Linked DNA regions of Homo sapiens: region 1 is linked to region 2. Evidence: fine-mapped expression QTL. Tissue or cell type: whole blood. Region 2 holds a variant in brackets; the other region holds the start of a gene. All regions are shown on one strand. Distances are between the middles of the regions.

What was found. PIP is the estimated chance that this variant, and not a neighbour inherited with it, causes the effect.
Region 1: TBC1D16 starts here. The variant in region 2 is fine-mapped to the expression of TBC1D16 in whole blood (Lepik 2017, PIP 0.95).

What each region holds. Positions count from the first base shown.
Region 1 is chr17:80,031,384-80,039,553 of GRCh38, forward strand. It overlaps TBC1D16 (TBC1 domain family member 16), which reads right to left and starts at 4,489. Exons shown (of 12, transcript NM_019020.4): 1 at 4,412-4,489. CCDC40 (coiled-coil domain 40 molecular ruler complex subunit) reads left to right here and starts at 5,259. Exons shown (of 20, transcript NM_017950.4): 1 at 5,259-5,308; 2 at 6,740-6,803. The coding sequence starts at 5,280. RefSeq lists a silencer at 4,488-4,557 and enhancers at 4,748-4,867, 5,767-6,061.
Region 2 is chr17:80,002,551-80,010,729 of GRCh38, forward strand. TBC1D16 (TBC1 domain family member 16) reads right to left here. Exons shown (of 12, transcript NM_019020.4): 3 at 7,610-8,179. Among named protein-coding and RNA genes, the nearest start is that of TBC1D16, 29 kb to the right of the region's middle. RefSeq lists an enhancer at 1-329. The variant GT/G (reference allele first, on the strand shown) is at 4,472.

The DNA of each region.
Region 1 (8,170 bases), 29 kb after region 2:
GGGACATCAAGTTGTATTTAAAATGAAGAAACTAGGGCTTAGGGCATTCACTGCAGTGCTGGGATCTTGGACCATAGGGAAAGAGGACCCCTGAGAGGCTATAACGGGGCAGGACCATCACCAAAACGGTGGTGAGGGAAAACCTGGTGGCCTGTGTGGCTGTGACTCTCCTTTTGCAACTGTCCAGCGGTCACCCTGATTAGCACCCACTCCCTGGAAAACCCCAAAGCCTCTGCCTCCAAGGAGAGACCATCTGCCATTTGTGCACCCTTGATAGTAGATTGTAAAATCCCATTTCCCCCGCAAAGAGCCAAGGAGGTCAGGCCTGGGAGAAGAAACTCAACTCAGAGGTGAGCCTGGATCTGGGACTAAGGAAAGACTAAACACAAAGGGTAAGGGAAGATGCAGACCCAGCCAGGAAATCAAAAACTGCCCTGAGTCTGGCTCAGGTACCTCCTACTTCTATGCTGTGCCTGTAAACATGGAGGCCTAAAGCTTCTCAGCATCTGTCAGTGAAGGAGCAGTGAATGCACCGCAAAACAAAACTGAAACTGGGGGGACATATTAACAACACCCAAAAGCAACACAACTGATCTTGCTTTGGAAAGCATTTTAGTTACAGAAAAGGCAAAAGGCTGTCAAATGACATCTGTAAAGTTCACCCTTTCCCCCACTTCCAGAAGGCTAGAGTAATGATGAACTATATTGGAGCATTGAATTCAGGCTCACTCAACATGCAAAAAGCAGTACACGACTGAAGTGTGCAAGCCAGCATGGATGCGGGCTTGGCACCCGCAGTACGTTGGCTTCATAGTGACCAATCCAGAAAGACCACGGAGAAAATACTGCCACATCTCAGCGTCTGCAGCCCATACAGGCAAGCAGACACATGTATCACCTTCCAACGCCTGCACAGACTCACCGCCCAAGGCTCAGCAACAGAAGGGCAGGCCATTCCGACTGGACAGTGGATTTGGATTATTTCTCTTTTCTTTCTGTTATTCATGTGTCAGAAGCCACCACGGGCAGAAATCGAACTTAGTCTTACAGTGGCCCGATTTCTCTCATCCTTTGAGGATGGTTATGTAAGTTCCGAAGACAGAGTAAAGAACGTATTTCAAATCAGATGCCACCAGACAGCTCATAAAAGCAGATTTATTAGAGATGCAACATCAGGTGCTCAAAGGACAGATAGGATAAAAACACCAACAAAGCCAACAGGATAAAAAACACTGCCGCTGAGGTGAACGGAAAAAGGCCTCCAACATCATTGCCCCATATTTTTGGGAAGGGTGCAAATGTGTGCTCTCTCCTGTGCACTGGCCTCATTAACAGCAATATAATGCAAATGCAATACAAATGGTGTACAATTCGATCATAAAATCATCCTCTGCGCTGTCACCTTCACATCCCAGAGCCACCCGCCCCCGGTGCTTAATGCTGGATGAAACAAAGTAGCTAATCTTACAAGAGAATTTAGGCCTGTGACAAAAATCAGGGTCCCTCAGCCAGGGAAGAAGGGGAGCTAAAATTTTCACAGGAGGTGGTGTTGCCAGGCAACCTGATCAGCTCTGCTCCCCATAGCATCCTGCAGGGACCCAGCCCCCGGTCAAGTTGTAAAGATAAGGGTACACATACGCACAAATAGTAAATCCTACATCTGCCTGGAATCACTTTCCACCTCATGGACCACACAAAGGGGAGTGAGGAGTCAAAGCACAAAAACAAAATGTTTTGTGTCAATCTAGTTAAATGTGGAAAATCCAAATAACGGTCATTAATAACAGTGTTAAAATGTTACCATTTGACATTACTTACCACATCCTAAATGGTAACTCAGGATGTGTCAGGAATTCAATGCTTTTCATAATCCTTGCACAAAGTCTCTGAAGTAGGTAGTATAGATGGGGAAATTAAGGCACTGGAGAATTAACTAAGTGCCAGAGGAGTTGGGGTTTTTGTTGTTGTTTTGTTGTTGTTGTTGTTTGGGTTTTTTAGGTTTTTTTTTTAAGCAGAGTCTCACTCTGTCACCCAGGCTAGAATGCAGAGGCTGGTCATGGCTCACTGCAGCCCTGACCTCCCGGGCTCAAGCTATCCTCCCACCTCAGCCACCCAAATAGCTGGGACCATAGGTGCCCACCAGCATGTCCAGCTAATTTGTTCATTTTTTGTAGCGATAGGGTCTCTCTAGGTTGCCTAAGGTGGTCTTGAACTTCTGGGCTCAAGTGATTCTCCCAAAATACAGGATTATAGGTGTGAGCTACTATGCCCAGTCCAGGATTTGTATTTGAAGCCAGCAGTCCATCTTTCTACGCCATGTTCTTAACCACTGCACCTTATTACCCAAAACTGTGGACAGAGACCAGTGCAATTGTAGGTAGGTTCTGCAAACTCAATGGCTTTATCCTGAAGCCTGGGGGATGCTTTCCATACTGAAGTGAACTGAGATTAGCAGCTAGTGGTGACATGGGATTAGTCCCACCTCCTTGCACTGTTATGAACCACTTGGAAGAATGTTTGTATATGAATGGTGGGCACCCTCTGTAAGACAGAGGGCAAAGTTGTACAACGGTTTTCTGGAGCTGGGACGTCCTGGGCCTAAGGCCTAATTCTGTCACTCCTAACTGCATGAGCTTGGGAAGTTACTTCTCTAAGCGTCAGTGTTCCCATCTGTAAATGGGCATAACTGCAGTCCTGACTTCATGAGCTTGTTTTGTGGGTTAAGTGAATTCATGCATGATAATTAGGAACTACTAACGCAATCACCAAAATTGCTAGAGGATTAAATAATTCCACAGATAAAAACTTTTTTTTTCCTTTTTTTTTTTTTTTTTGAGACATAGAATGTTGCTCTATCACCCGGGCTGGGGTGCAGTTGCACATCTTGGCTCACTGCAACCTTCGCCTCCCGAGCTCAAGCGATTCCCCTGTCTCAGCCTCCTGAGTACTGGGATTACAGGCTCACGCCACCACACCGGGCTAATTTTTGTATTTTTAGTAGATATGGGGGGTTTCACCATATTGGCCAGGCTGGTCTCGAACTCCTGACCTCAGGTGATCCGCTCGCCTCGTCCTCCCAAAGTGCTGGGATTACAGCCGTGAGCCACGGCGCCCAGCCATAAAAACTTTCGCCATAAAAACTTTCGTTAGCCATAGTCTCACCATAAACATGCCACTTACAAAAAAATATGCGCACAATAACCACGCTCAGGATGCAAACAACATCCATTAATGAACTTTGTAGTTAATACCAAAAGTTACTCCTCACTTTATTCTTTATTTACAAAAGCTTTCATGGTTCTTAAAAGTGTTTAGTATTCACCAATTTTACTGTTAGCGTTTCTAATGAGGATTTTCTAAAACTGAGGCATGGATTTGAAAAAGTGTTCTGATCAATCAGTAACAGATTTGGAATGGAATCTCCAGCCCCCAGTCTTTGCGCCCACCCTCTGGCAATATGCCGCCTCACGTGAGCATCTTTAAGACGGAGTTCCCTTTTTATTCCAGATAAAAGAATTAGGAGCCTTCTGGTAGAAAAGAAAGCAGATCTTCAGGATCAAGTCGCAGAGGCTGGCCAATCAGCCCAGCTTCTCATTTGAACTTGACCCAGACAGTAAAACAAACTTTACCATAAGGCGAGACTAACTTTTGTTATGTCTTTTCTATTCATTTCCTATTTCTGAATCAAATCTGAACTACTTTGTGGCCAATATACGACACCAGCTTCCGAGTGTGGGAATCACAGGATTTCAGGATTCAGCGGCTTCCGGCAGGATCCCCTAGGTTATGTTTAGCAATCTTCAGTTGCCTTTCCTTTTTTTCTTTCCTTCCTTTCGTTCTTTCTTTCTTTTTCTTTTTTTTTTTTTCCCAAAGGAAAGAACAAGGGAGCCCAGGCGGAACGGAAGTGAGTATCCCGACACGCGGATCTTAAACAGCCCAGACCACCAAGCCCGACAGGCCGGGAAAGCTGAGCGCGCGCTGCTGGGGGGACGCACACTTTGGAGGCTGTGTGGGCGCGCGCCGGCACCCCACAAGTTCTCATCCGTCTGCTCCGCCGATTCAGCCAGACAAAGACCGCAAGTTCCCCGGTCCACCGCTCCAGACAGGCGGGGACCAGTCTCCCCGAATTAGGCCCATTCCGGGCCCGGGCGCCCTCACTCGCCGCGGGGAAAAGTCCCCAGGTGCCCCTCCGTGATCCAGGTCCTCCCACAACGCTCCCGCTCCTGCTGGCGCCCCGCACCCCGAGGACGGCGGCCGGACCCCGGCCCCTCCCCGGTCCCGCGGCTGCAGGCCCACGCGCCCCACGCGCCCCGCGCGCCCCCGCCCCAGCTCCGCCGAGGGGGCGCTGCTCGCTGCGCGGTGGACCCCTCGGACCCCGCCCCCGCGGCCCCGTCCGGGCCCCGATACCCACCCGGGTCCCGCTGCGGGGGCCGGATTCGCGCCGGCTCCGAGAGCCGCCACCGTCGCCTCCGCCGCTGCCGCCGCCAGTGAGGCGCGGCGGGGCGGGGACGCGCGGGGAGGCCCGGCCCCCGGCCCGCCCCCGGGCCCGCCCCCGGCCCGGCCCCTGCCTGCCCCCGCCGGTCTCCCCGCCCACCTTCTGGCCCAGCCCTGGGCCCAAGCCTCTAGTTCCCTGCTGGCCCTCCCTCAGGCCTCGCCGCGTCCCGGCCTCGGGGACTGTGCCCCGTCCCGAGCCTGGCGTCCCCAAAGGAAAGGCAGGGCTCCTCGGACGCTCCGCGTGCGCGCTGGCCCTCCGCTGCCGCCCTCTGCAGGGAGATTTCTCCTATTTCGGACTAGGAAGGGAAGATACGCTCCGGAAGACCCCCCGGGCGTCCATGCAAGGAGTCTCCGTAGGACCCCTGGAGAAGGGCACCGGAGCCCCCTAGGGCAGGAGATGGAAAAGCGCTCGCCATGCGCGGGGTCCCCGGCCCCCGGTGCCCCCAGCCCGCCTGCCATTCCCGGGCGCTTAGCAGTCCGGGGTCCCCAGGTGCCCGGCAGGTCCCTTCGGGACCTCGAGCCGCCCGCTGGGCACACGCTGACGCCGCTGTCGCTTTACAGAAATTGAGCGCAGCCGAGGCGGGACCCGGGCGCAGAGAGCGATAAAGGAAAAGCATGGTCGTGCTCTAATCATTACAGTCTAAGGGACGACACGTCGAGACGGCGCGCGCCTCTGCGTGCGTGGAGATGGCACAAAGGCCGCGCCGCCCCCGGCGGCCCCCGCCCTCGCAGCGCGCGTGGTCCCGGCCCGGCCGGATGTTGACAGCGTCGCCTAGCAACGGGAAATGGCGGAACCGGGCGGCGCGGCGGGCCGGTAAGCCGGGCCGAGGGGCAGCGGGTCTTGGAGTCGCCAGGCCGCGCTCTCCGTTCACCGCTCCAGGTGGCCCCCGCGTCGGCTCCTGCCTCGCCCCTTCGCCTCCACTCCCCCTTCCTCTCGCCTGTGTCCCTTCTCTCGCCATTTTGCTGGCCTTTCCCGTCCACTGCGTTCAGCCCCTCACCCCCCCGCCAACCCTTCTCACTTCTCCCCTCCTGTCCCTTTGTCCTCTCTCGGCCTCCCTCTTTCCCCTACTCCAAGCGCGCGACTCCCTCTAAAACCCGGGACCGCTCACTCTGCAGTCACCATGGCAACCACTCTGCGTGGCGGTCCCTGCGCGCAGTCCTCCTAAGAGTAGAGGGCTCTGCAGGGCGCGGGGCTGTTGGATACCGCCCCTGACCTTGCTCCGGGGCCACTCGCTGTGGCCGGAGACCAGCCCGGCCCCGCGCCTCCCTCCTGCAAGGACAGATCCCCTCTCGCAGGCTTGGGGGTGACCCGCGATGGGAGGGGTCCCTGCGGTTAGGCGGCCCGCGATAGTCCGCGGTCACCGTCCTGGGGCCTGGGTGGAAGCACTGAGCGCGCACAGGGAGGGCGGCTGAGTGAAGATCCCTGCCACCGGGCCTCTGCTCGCTTAGGCTCTGTTTAAAAGGATAGAAACGATTGGAAAGAGTTTGGCCTTTTTACCTTAGACACATCGGTATTGTTTCATTTTTTTAAAGGTGGGTCTGTATGTATTGACATGGAAAGACTAAAGGTATTATTAATAAAACGATAGGCATAAATGTAAAAGGGTAGGTATACTATGATCTCTAATTCAGGGTGTGTGTGTGTGTTTAAAACATAGAAAAATGTTGAAAGAATGTGGTCCTAAATGTTATCAATGATTATCTTGGGAAGGAAAGGGAAGATCACAGGGAACTGTCACTGTCTGTCTCTTTGAACATATCTATATTCCTTTGACAGATAAAAATAGCTTGAATCTTTAATTTTTTAAAAAAGATATACATATATATATATATATATATATATTCCTGTGCTACGTAAATCGTGGAGAAACTCAGAGTCCCCAGAACACTTACTCTGATCGCGCTACTTTCTCTACGTTGTATTTCTTTTCCCCAGTTTTGTCCCAGACACAAGTTATATTTGAGGTGACTTTTCTGGGGTGATCTAATCCTGCTGTTCCTTCGATGTTTTAATAATTATATTTTTCATTCATTCATGGAGCTTTGCTTTTGTGGCATCTCCGCCACCTGACAGGCATGATATAGTGCTATGGTTCCTGACAAACAGGACAAAGACGTGACAACAGCCTGGGGGTGGCAGAGAAGTAACAAGTAAATAAACAGATGTGCAGAATTCAGGAGGGGATAAGGACCAAGAAAAAGAAAGCTGTTGCTTGAAACTGTTCAATTGTTTCTCTAAAACCAGGTCCCATCCGGAAGATGGATCGGCTTCTGAGGGAGAGAAGGAAGGGAATAATGAAAGCCACATGGTAAAATTCCCTATGGGCAGTTATTCCGGGCTTATATTTACTAGGAATTAAAGAGAATCAGAGTACGGGCACTGTGGCTCACGCCTGTAATCCCAACACTTTGGGAGGCCAAGGCAGGTGGATCACATGAGGTTAGGAGTTTGAGACAAGCCTGGCCAACATGGTAAAACCCCATCTCTACTAAAAATATAAAAATTAGCCGGGCGTGGTGGTGCGCACATGTAGTCCCAGCTACTCGGGAGGCTGAGGCAGGACAGTGGCTTGAACTCGGGAGACAGAGGTTGCAGTGAGCCAAGATCACACCATTGCACTCCAGCCTGGGTGACCAGTGAAACTCTATCTCAAAAATAAATAAATAGGCCGGGCACGGTGACTCACGCCTGTAATTCCAGCACTTTGGGAGGCCGAGGCAGGCAGATCACGAGGTCAAAAGATCGAGACTATCCTGGCCAACATGGTGAAACCCTGTCTCTACTAAAAATACAAAAATTTGCCAGGCATGGTGGTTCACGCCTGTAGTCCCAGCTACTCGGGAGGCTGAGGCAGGAGAATGGCTTGAACCTGGGAGATGGAGGTTGCAGTGAGCCGAGATTGTGCCACTGCACTCAGCCTGGCGACAGAGCGAGACTCCATCTCAAAAAATAGATAAATAAAATTAAATTAAAAATAAATAAATAAAGAGAATTAGGACTTGGTCAAGTATATTGTATGATGACATTATCTTGCACCAGAACAAACTCAATTCAGTTGAAGAGAGACTCATTTTCTTCCTACCCCATTCTACAGTGTCAGTGATTAGTCAGGGATGCAAAGGATGTCCAACTTTGGGTTGCCCTGAGTTTTTCGGAACTCATTTCCTGTAACAAAGGATGCAAAAATGATTATGAAAAGCAGAGAGGGCCAGGCATGGTGGCTCACGCCTGTGGTCCCGGCACTTTGGGAGGCTGAGGCGGATGGATCTCTTGAGGCCAGGAATTCAAGACCAGCCTGGCCAACATGGTGAAACCCCATCCCTACTAAAAATGGAAAAATTAACTGGGCATGGTGGTACACACCTGTAGTCCCAGCTACTTGGGAGGCTGAAGCAGGAGAATCGCTTGAACCCAGGAGGTGGAAGTTGCAGTGAGCCGAGATCACGCCACCGCACTCCAGCCTGGGCAGCAGAGTGAGCCCCTGTCACAAAAAAAAATAAAAAAAGAAAGAACAGATAAACTGAAGCATGAAACATGATTTTTTTTTTTTTTGAGACAGAGTCTCACTCTGTCTCCAGGCTGAAGTTCAGTGGCACGATCTCAGCTCACTGCAACCTCTGCCTTCCGAGTTTAAGCAATTCTCCTGCCCCAGCCTTCTAAGTAGCTGGGATTACA
Region 2 (8,179 bases):
TGTCTTATCATCTCGTCTTTCCCCCATTACTTTGGACAGAGAGTTTTTCGGGCCTGTCCTGCTGGGAGGGTCGCTACGTTTCTAGGGTCCACCTTCCATCCTCCCAGGAACATTCCGTCCAGACCTGTGCTGTCAGGCATGGAGGCCTCCCGCTGTGACCACCAAACTTCACATTCATTGAAGATAAAGAAAGACCAAAGTCCAGTTGCTTGGCCACATCTGCTGCATTTCTAGGGCGTGGTGGCCACACACAGTGGGGCACAGGCACAGGACCGCGTGCACTGCAGGACGCTCTGCTGACGGCGCTGGCCCAGGCACTGGGAGGACCCTGTGAGGAAGCACCCGGGAACGGTGGCGCACGTAGGGAACACCACGCGGCCTTGATAGGAGCTCTCCAGAGAGAAAGCTCAGGTCCCAGCAGGGGTCACGGAGAAGAAAGTCTCTTCCACCTGCAGGTGGGCTGGGGATTCAGCAGGAGAGAGGAGAACATTCCAGCTGCGGGCAGCAAGGTGGGAAGCGGCTATGCTTGGGGTGAAGTGCCCAGTGTGTGTGCAGGAAAGGGCAAGAGGAAAGTGGGAGGGCAGGGGGTCCCGGCAGCACCCCCAGGTGGGCAGCACATTGCTCCTGGCCCTTGCCCACCTGTGGCCGCGCCAACCCGCTTGGACTGAGTCTGACCTGGCAGGAACTGCATGACAGAAACCACAGTAACAAGTGGCCAAACTCTGAGGCCAGGCCACCCAGCCCATCCCAACACCCAAACACCATCTTGCCTAGGCTGGCCACCCCGGGAACGCATGCCGGGAATGACAAGAGGACCCAGGGAGAGAGAGAACGAAACACTCACTTCCCCAGGGGGAGGCCCCGCTGGCGGCACGGGACCCAAGGTGGCAGGCCGGCGGCACTGGTGTCACTGGAAGGACCTCAGTGACCAGCTCGCCCTGGAGGCCTCTTCACTAGTTAGCAGCGTGCAGCGCAGTGGGAGATGCTTAGCGTCCCCAAATGTGCAGGTTCTCCCCTTCTGTCTATTTTTATACATTGGTTTTCATTCTAAGCTTAATATAATCACAGAATAACATTTTTGAAAACAGAAAAGTAAAAAAAAAAAAAAAGTGCTCATAATCACACTAGGCTAACACGTGGGCACACCTTCCTCTCAACCTCTGCCATCCACTGCCGTGGCCACTGACCACAGGCGCTATCCACATTTATATTCATCAGGGCCGGGCACGCGGCTCATGCCTGTAATCCCAGCACTTTGGGAGGTCCAGGCAGGAGGGTCACTTGAGCCTAGGAGTTTGAGACCAGCCTAGGCAACAGAGCAAGAGTCTGTCTCTAAAAAATAAAATAAATGAACGGGGCATGGTGGTGCATGTCTGCAATCCCAGCTACTTGAGAGGCTGAGGTGGGAGGATCGCTCGAGCCCGGGAGGTGGAGGCTGCAGTGAGCTGTGATTGTGCTGCCGCCACCGTATGCCGGCCTGAGCAATACGGTGAGACTCTGTCTCTAAAAACGAAACTTAAAAACATTTTAAAATTAAAAACAATTTTATTAATCCGTATTATGTAAAATTAAAAATTCAGTTGCACTTGCGCCATTTCAAGGGTTCAAGAGCTGCATGAAGCCAGTGGCCGCAGTGCGGGACGGCGCAGACCTGGGTTCTGTCTGCCCTGGCAGAAGCTCTGCTGGGCAGCCCTGCCCTGAGAGCCTCATCTGCACCTCAGGCCTCTTCACAGAGTTTAACTGCAACGGGCAGAATCATAACCCGTTTCCTGCTTTGCGTCTGATTCACTCTAAATTTCCACACTGCAACACTGCATGGACCATTTGACAGTCCTTGTCAATACCACATCTTCTCCTATCTGGCAGCACCGAGCTTCTGAACGTTTTACAGGTCACAGACCTTCTGGGAAGTCAGATGGTGCCTCCTCCTCATATAAAAAAAAGTGGGGTAAGATCTCAGGGGTTCGTGAGCCCAGGTTTGAAAACTCCCTGATCCAACAGAGGGACCTTAGAGGGACCTTAGTCGGTCCACCTCCTCTGCCGTTGGATTCTTATGTTCTGCTCCTTTTTCCCCACTGTAAGGAATACCACGATGAACATCTTCATGCAGAAGCGTTTGTCTTTCTACTTTTATTTTCTTTTGAGACAAGGTCTAGCTCTGTCACCCAGGCTGGAGTGCAGGGGCACCATCTCGGCTCACTGCAACCTCTGCCTCCCAAGTTCAAGCGATTCTCGTGCCTGAGCTTCCCAAGTAGCTGGGATTACAGGCATGTGCCACCATGCTGAACTAATTTTTGTATTTTTAGTTGAGATGGGGTTTTACGGTGTTGACCACGCTGGCCTCCAACTGCCAACCTCAAGTGATCTGCCCACCTTAGCCTCCCAAAGCGCTGGAATTACAGGCTTAAGCCACGTGCCGGCCACTTTGGCCTTTCTATCTGTAATTTGGATTCTTTCTTAGGATGAGGTCCAGAGGAGACATTTTCACTTAGGGAGCAGAATCTGGTGTTTTTGTTGTTCTTGTTTTTGTTGTTGTTGTTTTTGTTTTTGACAAGGTCTCACTCTGTCACCCAGGCTTGAGTGCACTGGTGCGATCATGGCTCACTGCAGCCTCCACCTCCCAGGCTCAAGCAGTCCTCCTGCCTCAGCCTCCGGAGTAGCAGCTTGGATTAAAGGTGTGCACCACCACACCCAGCTAATTTTTTTTTCTTTTTGGTAGAGACGGGGTCTCGCTATGTTGCCCAGGCTTGTTTCAGTTCTTTATCCAGGTCACCAATGCACATCCCCGGGGCAGGGTCAGTGGACACGGTACCAGCCCCATGGCGCCCCGTTATTCCACACCCTCGCCCAACTGGCCTTTTAGGCTGGACGGTAGCTTCCAGCACAGAAACCAAGGGCAGGATGACCAGTCGCGCTTGGTGGTCACCCTCCCCAGCACACCCGAGAGCCTTGCTTTCTGACACTGAGGAGGGCACAGGACCAAGATAGCCCAGGGCTCACCCCCGGCTCGGGGAAGCTCAGGGTCTTGGGGTCTCAGGGCGGGGAGGCAGGACGACGCATTGGCGACAGCAGCTCTCCGTATCACCCCATCCCCCAAGTCAGCCTCGAATACTCACTTGGTCAAGGATTTCCAGGCCGTCGCTGGACTGGGGCCTGGGGCCTGGGGCTTCCAAAGGAGACCTCTGGGTTTAGTAGGTGGGCTCACCTTCCAGCATGCAGACCCCACCTGGCCATACTCTACAGGTAGCACACGAATGTGGGCAGCCCGGGGGATACTGCCATTTCTAACCCCTAAGCTCTTCTGTGAACTACTTGCCAAATAACCATATACCTGGGGGACCCTAGGCCCCCGGGGTGGGGTGGGGGAGTTGTCCCTCCTGGCCAATCTCAGCCAGACACGCAGCCTGCACATGCAGTTCTTCAGATCCACCACTAGAGGGGACCCTCGAGCCAGCCTACCTGCTCTGCCCTCCGGGGGGACTCAACTCCGGGTTAATTATTAATAGACGCCCCACCGCTCAGAGTGGCGATGGGTGCACCCGAGTCCTCACCAACACCCCTGCCTGGCGGGATGGCCAGTCATCTGGGGTCCTCGGCCCTGACACCCCTCCCCACCCCAGAGCACCAGGAGCGCTCTCGCTCTCTCTCGCTCTCTCGCTCTCTTTCTCTCTTTCTTTCTCTCTCTCTCTCTCTCTCTCAGCCCCTTCACAGCAGGGGTTCTCAACGCTACGTGCACTTCAGAAACCCCCAGGAAGTTCAAAACATTCCCATGCCTGGGCGCCACCCCAGCGATCCTAGTTTAATTGGTCTGGGTGCAGCCTGGGCATCAGGATTTTTAAAGCTGCCCAGGGCATTCTCATGGGCAGCCGGGCTGGGGACGCCTGCTCTACAGCGTCTAGGACAATTAACCACCTTAGCCAAGGATCTCCAGTCCCATCATACGAAGGCCCCGGGGGATGGGGATGGGGCAAGGAGCACCACCTCTGCTTCCTGGGTCTACCATGTGGTGGGGGCCAGAAGCGCACAGGAGCAAGGAAAGACCAGGGAAATGCAGATTCCAGGGCTCGCCCAGCCCCTTTCAGAATCCATGTCTGCTTTTCTTTTTCTTTCTTTCTTTTTTTTTTTCCAGACAGAGTATCTCTCTGTCACCCAGGCTGGAGTGCAGTGGCATGATCACAGCTCACTGCAGCCTTCACCTCCCAGGCTTAAGCCATCCTCCTGCCTCAGCCTCCTGAGTAGCTGGGACCATAGGCATGCACCACTATGCCCAGCTAATTTTTATGTATTTTTTATAGAGATGAGGTTTTGCCATTTTCCCCAGGCTGGTCTTGAACTCCTAGGCTCAAGCAATCCACCCACCTTGGCCTCCCAAAGTGCTGGGATTACAGGCGTGAGTCACAGTGCCCGGCCTCCATATCTACTTTTTAAAAATAAAAAGAAAGCTCTCAGCAGTCTGTCTTGGAGACAGGCT[GT/G]TTTCACTCCAGCCTTGCACTGAAGCACACGCTTCTGGCGGGGTGGGGAGAGTCCCATCCACATCCACCTCGTCCCAGCACAAAGCTGCAACTCGCCACGTTCAGCGAGCCTCCCCTGGACCGGGCTGACACAGGCCTGAGGTGCGAGCCACACCGAGCCCGCGGCCATGTGGCCAAGAGGCATTTTCTGAGCCTTCATCAGGAGCAGGGCCGGGCTGTGGTAAGCACCCCCCAGCACGGTCTCCGGGTGGGGACGAGTCCCAGGCCAGGCTCGCTGACCCCATACCCCAGGCTGGTGCTCAACCCTCACGCCGACTCTGCCCTACAAGGGGGTTCTTGGCCGCACTTCACACCCGTGAGGCATCTGCGTTTTGGATGTGGGAGGTAATGGCCACAAGATCACACATAACTCAGGATGATGCCAGGACTGGAAACAGATCTGTCGGACCCCAAAATTTACTCCTTCACCACCATCTGCCTCCCAGCAGCTGGGGACGGACAGGCGGACAGGGTGTCTCAGTGGGGACTCGAGTGTCAGAGCAGAGAAGGGGGCCATGGGGAGGGCCCTCCTCAGCCCAGGGTTCGGGGGAATAGAGAAGCCTCCCCCAAAAGCTGACATGAAGGTGCCTCGCCCCAGGAGCTGAGTCTCAAACATATAAGCTGGCCGGTTAGGAGAGAGGGGAAGGAGGAAGCCTAGGTAGAGGGGATCCCTAGCCAAAGGCATGAGGCAGAGAGAGCCCCACAAGATCTAGAGGCAGAGAGGACGACGAACTTGGAGGTGTGCACAGTGGGGGGTGGGGAGGCAGGCAGCATCGCTCAGCAGGGCCAGATGGTGATGGGCCTTGGACCCCGAGTGAAGGAGATGGTGCTTCATCCTGAAAATGATGGGCGGCCCCCGGTGGGTCCCAGGCAGAGGGACAGCCTGGCTTCCAGAGTGAGTGCACAGCACGCCTGTCCGCTGCCCACTGATGCCAATACATCCCCACCCTCAGTTGTGATAAAAAAAAAAAAAAAGTGTCTCCTGGCATTGCCATACACCCCCTGGGCACAGACTCGGCCCCGGGTGAGAATCACTGCTCTAGAAGAACCTGGAGGGACCTGGGCATCAGCGTCTAAAGGCTCCCCCAGGAACCCCCACATGCAGCCAGGTTGAAGAACCAGCAAGGCGAAGGGCGGGGAAAAGCGAACCGGGGTGCATTCTCACAATACCCCCAGAAAGTGGATATTACCAGCCTCATCTTACAAACAGGGAAACCGAGGCTCCAAGAAAAGAAAGAATTTCCCAGGTTCACACTAACCAGTGATGCCAGGACTCAACCGGCACTCAACTCCCTAACTCCTAAACTTGAGCTCCCTACGAGATGGGGCTGCGGGACAGAGAGCTGACCGGCCAGCTTCTGGTTGTGGTTCTGCCACAGAATCCTCAGCCCCAAGACCGTGGGCCAACCCCACCACCTCTCTGAGACACAACTGGGACCTTCCCCTCGCCTGGGCCCTGGGGATGCAGGGACACGGGGACGCCTGCAGGTTCTGCTGCACTGTTGGCCTGGCACCACCAGGGGGAGCTCCGACTGAGTCCGGCCTGCGGGACCCAGGCCAGGACCAGAGTTCGGGCCCCGCCTCCCCCACACCTCCTCGGGTTCCCTGGCGCCTGACGCCACCCAGCTCAGCAAGCCTCCTGGCACCTGGAGTCCTCAGTTACGGCTCACGGCTTCCTTTTATCTGCACTCTCCAATAACTGAGATGAATGTTATCGGTTCACCCTGGGGCTCTAATGGACTGCATCTTTACTGGAGGGATAAAATCAGGGAAGAACCCGTCCCACAGTCACCCCTGCTGAGGCCAGCAAAGCCTGTGTCCTTACTTCATGCCCCACCACTCCCCGGCTTAATCGGCCTGGGGTGACCTTTTATGCTGCAGCCCTGGGGCAGACCCAGCTGGGTTCACATCCCAGCTTGGCCCGGGCACTGGCTGGGAGACCCCTGGCAAGCTGCTGACCTTCTCCGAGCCGCCCTTTCCCCTTCGATAGCAGGGGATAATAGGAGGGCCCACCTCACGGGGCGTGGGGCTGTGGAAAGCACACACGTACCATCCATAGCCCACGGTGTCCAGCGCCCAGGCGAGACCCAGACCACCCACGTCCAGCATGCGCCCGGCTCACACCACGAGCTCAACAGTTAATGACCTGCTCGCTGACTGATGTCGGCTCTTACTGTTGTCTGTGGTCACCACCATTATTTGCCCAGAAATCTAATGAGCGTAAGGACCACAGCCGGGGCATAGGAAGGGGCTGTGGAAGTCGGATGCAGGCCCCCTGTGCTGGCTCTGGGGCTCCGGGCTTATGCGACCACACGGGCACTCACCCCAAGGCCATGAGGGCCCTCGTGGCACCATGCAACCCTCCCCACTCAGGAAGGTCTCTTTGGGTTCCAAGGCCCAGGGAACCCACCGCAGGGCACGGGCCCAACTCTAGCTCCTGCAAGTGTGGCCAGCAAGGAGTCCAGATACTCTGGCTGGACTCCCCAGGGTGCATAGCGGCTGCCAAGTCGGGTGAATATGGTCAACACTGCCCCGGGACTACATCCATCCTCCACAGCTATGAGAAAGAGGGAGGCTGAAGCCTCCGGGGACCACAGGGGGCCAGGTCACGTGCCCAGTGGGCTGCAGGGCAGAGCGGGGAGCTGGAGACCAGCACATCTGGGCTTGGGCCAGCCCTGTGCGTGAGCCTAATGATGCCACCCGGGCCTCTTGGGCACTCGCTTGGGGACTGAAAATCTCCTGCCCCTCCGGTGATGGGAACAGAAGGGACCAGGACTCCCGGGGGCTTAGCCTTGGTCATGGGCCCATCAGACCTGGTAGGGCCTGTTTAGTCCTAGTGAGTCTCAAGGAGAGAGAAGAATGTGGACACCCCGACGCACCCTTCACAGTCCTCTCAGTGGGGTGTAAAGTGGGGACTCCCTGCTGAAGCCCTTGCCTCAGGGAGGGGCTCCTGCCACAGCCACGGCCACAGCCGCGGGCAGGTCGGGCAGATGCCTCCAGCGCTCACCTGGCATCACAGGTGACGCAGGTGAGTGCTTCCTGCCCAGGTCAGGCCTTGGGGGCCTCCCGAGAGCCCACGCCCAGAACCAGGAACTCACCTGCTGTCACTTTCCAGAAACACGGAGCCGCGGCTCTCGGCCAGCGCCGCGCTGATGGGCGAGAGGCAGAAGGGCGAGGAGAAGGTGTCTGAGTCTGAGTCAAAGGAGCTGTCTCTGCTCACGCCCTCGGCTGACAGTTCCAAAGAGCCATCCTCCTCCCCGGCCTCGGGCCGCGGCTCCCGCCCCTCCTCGGTGACATCCTGCGGACTGACCGTCGACAAGATCCCGGAGGGGCTGCAAGCAGGCTGCGAGGCTGGCTGGGCACCATCCACCCCCAAGCCCTGCGCCAGCTTCTCCTCATCCTCTGGCGCAGGGCTGGCGAGCATGCGGTCTGGAACACTCTGGGCCACCACCAGGATGTCCTCATCTTTGGGGGTCAGGGTAGGCCGCAGCTCCGTCGGGGAGGGCTGGTGGGAGGCTCCTGAGCTCCGGGTGCGCCGGCCCCGAGGGCGGGGTGCCTTGCGAACGGGGGAGCTCTCGGGTGTGATGTAGCGCAGGGCCTCCTCGTCCTGCCTCTGGATGCGAGAGTTGGGGACCCATGCCAGGATGAGGGTGGCTCCCAGCATCTCA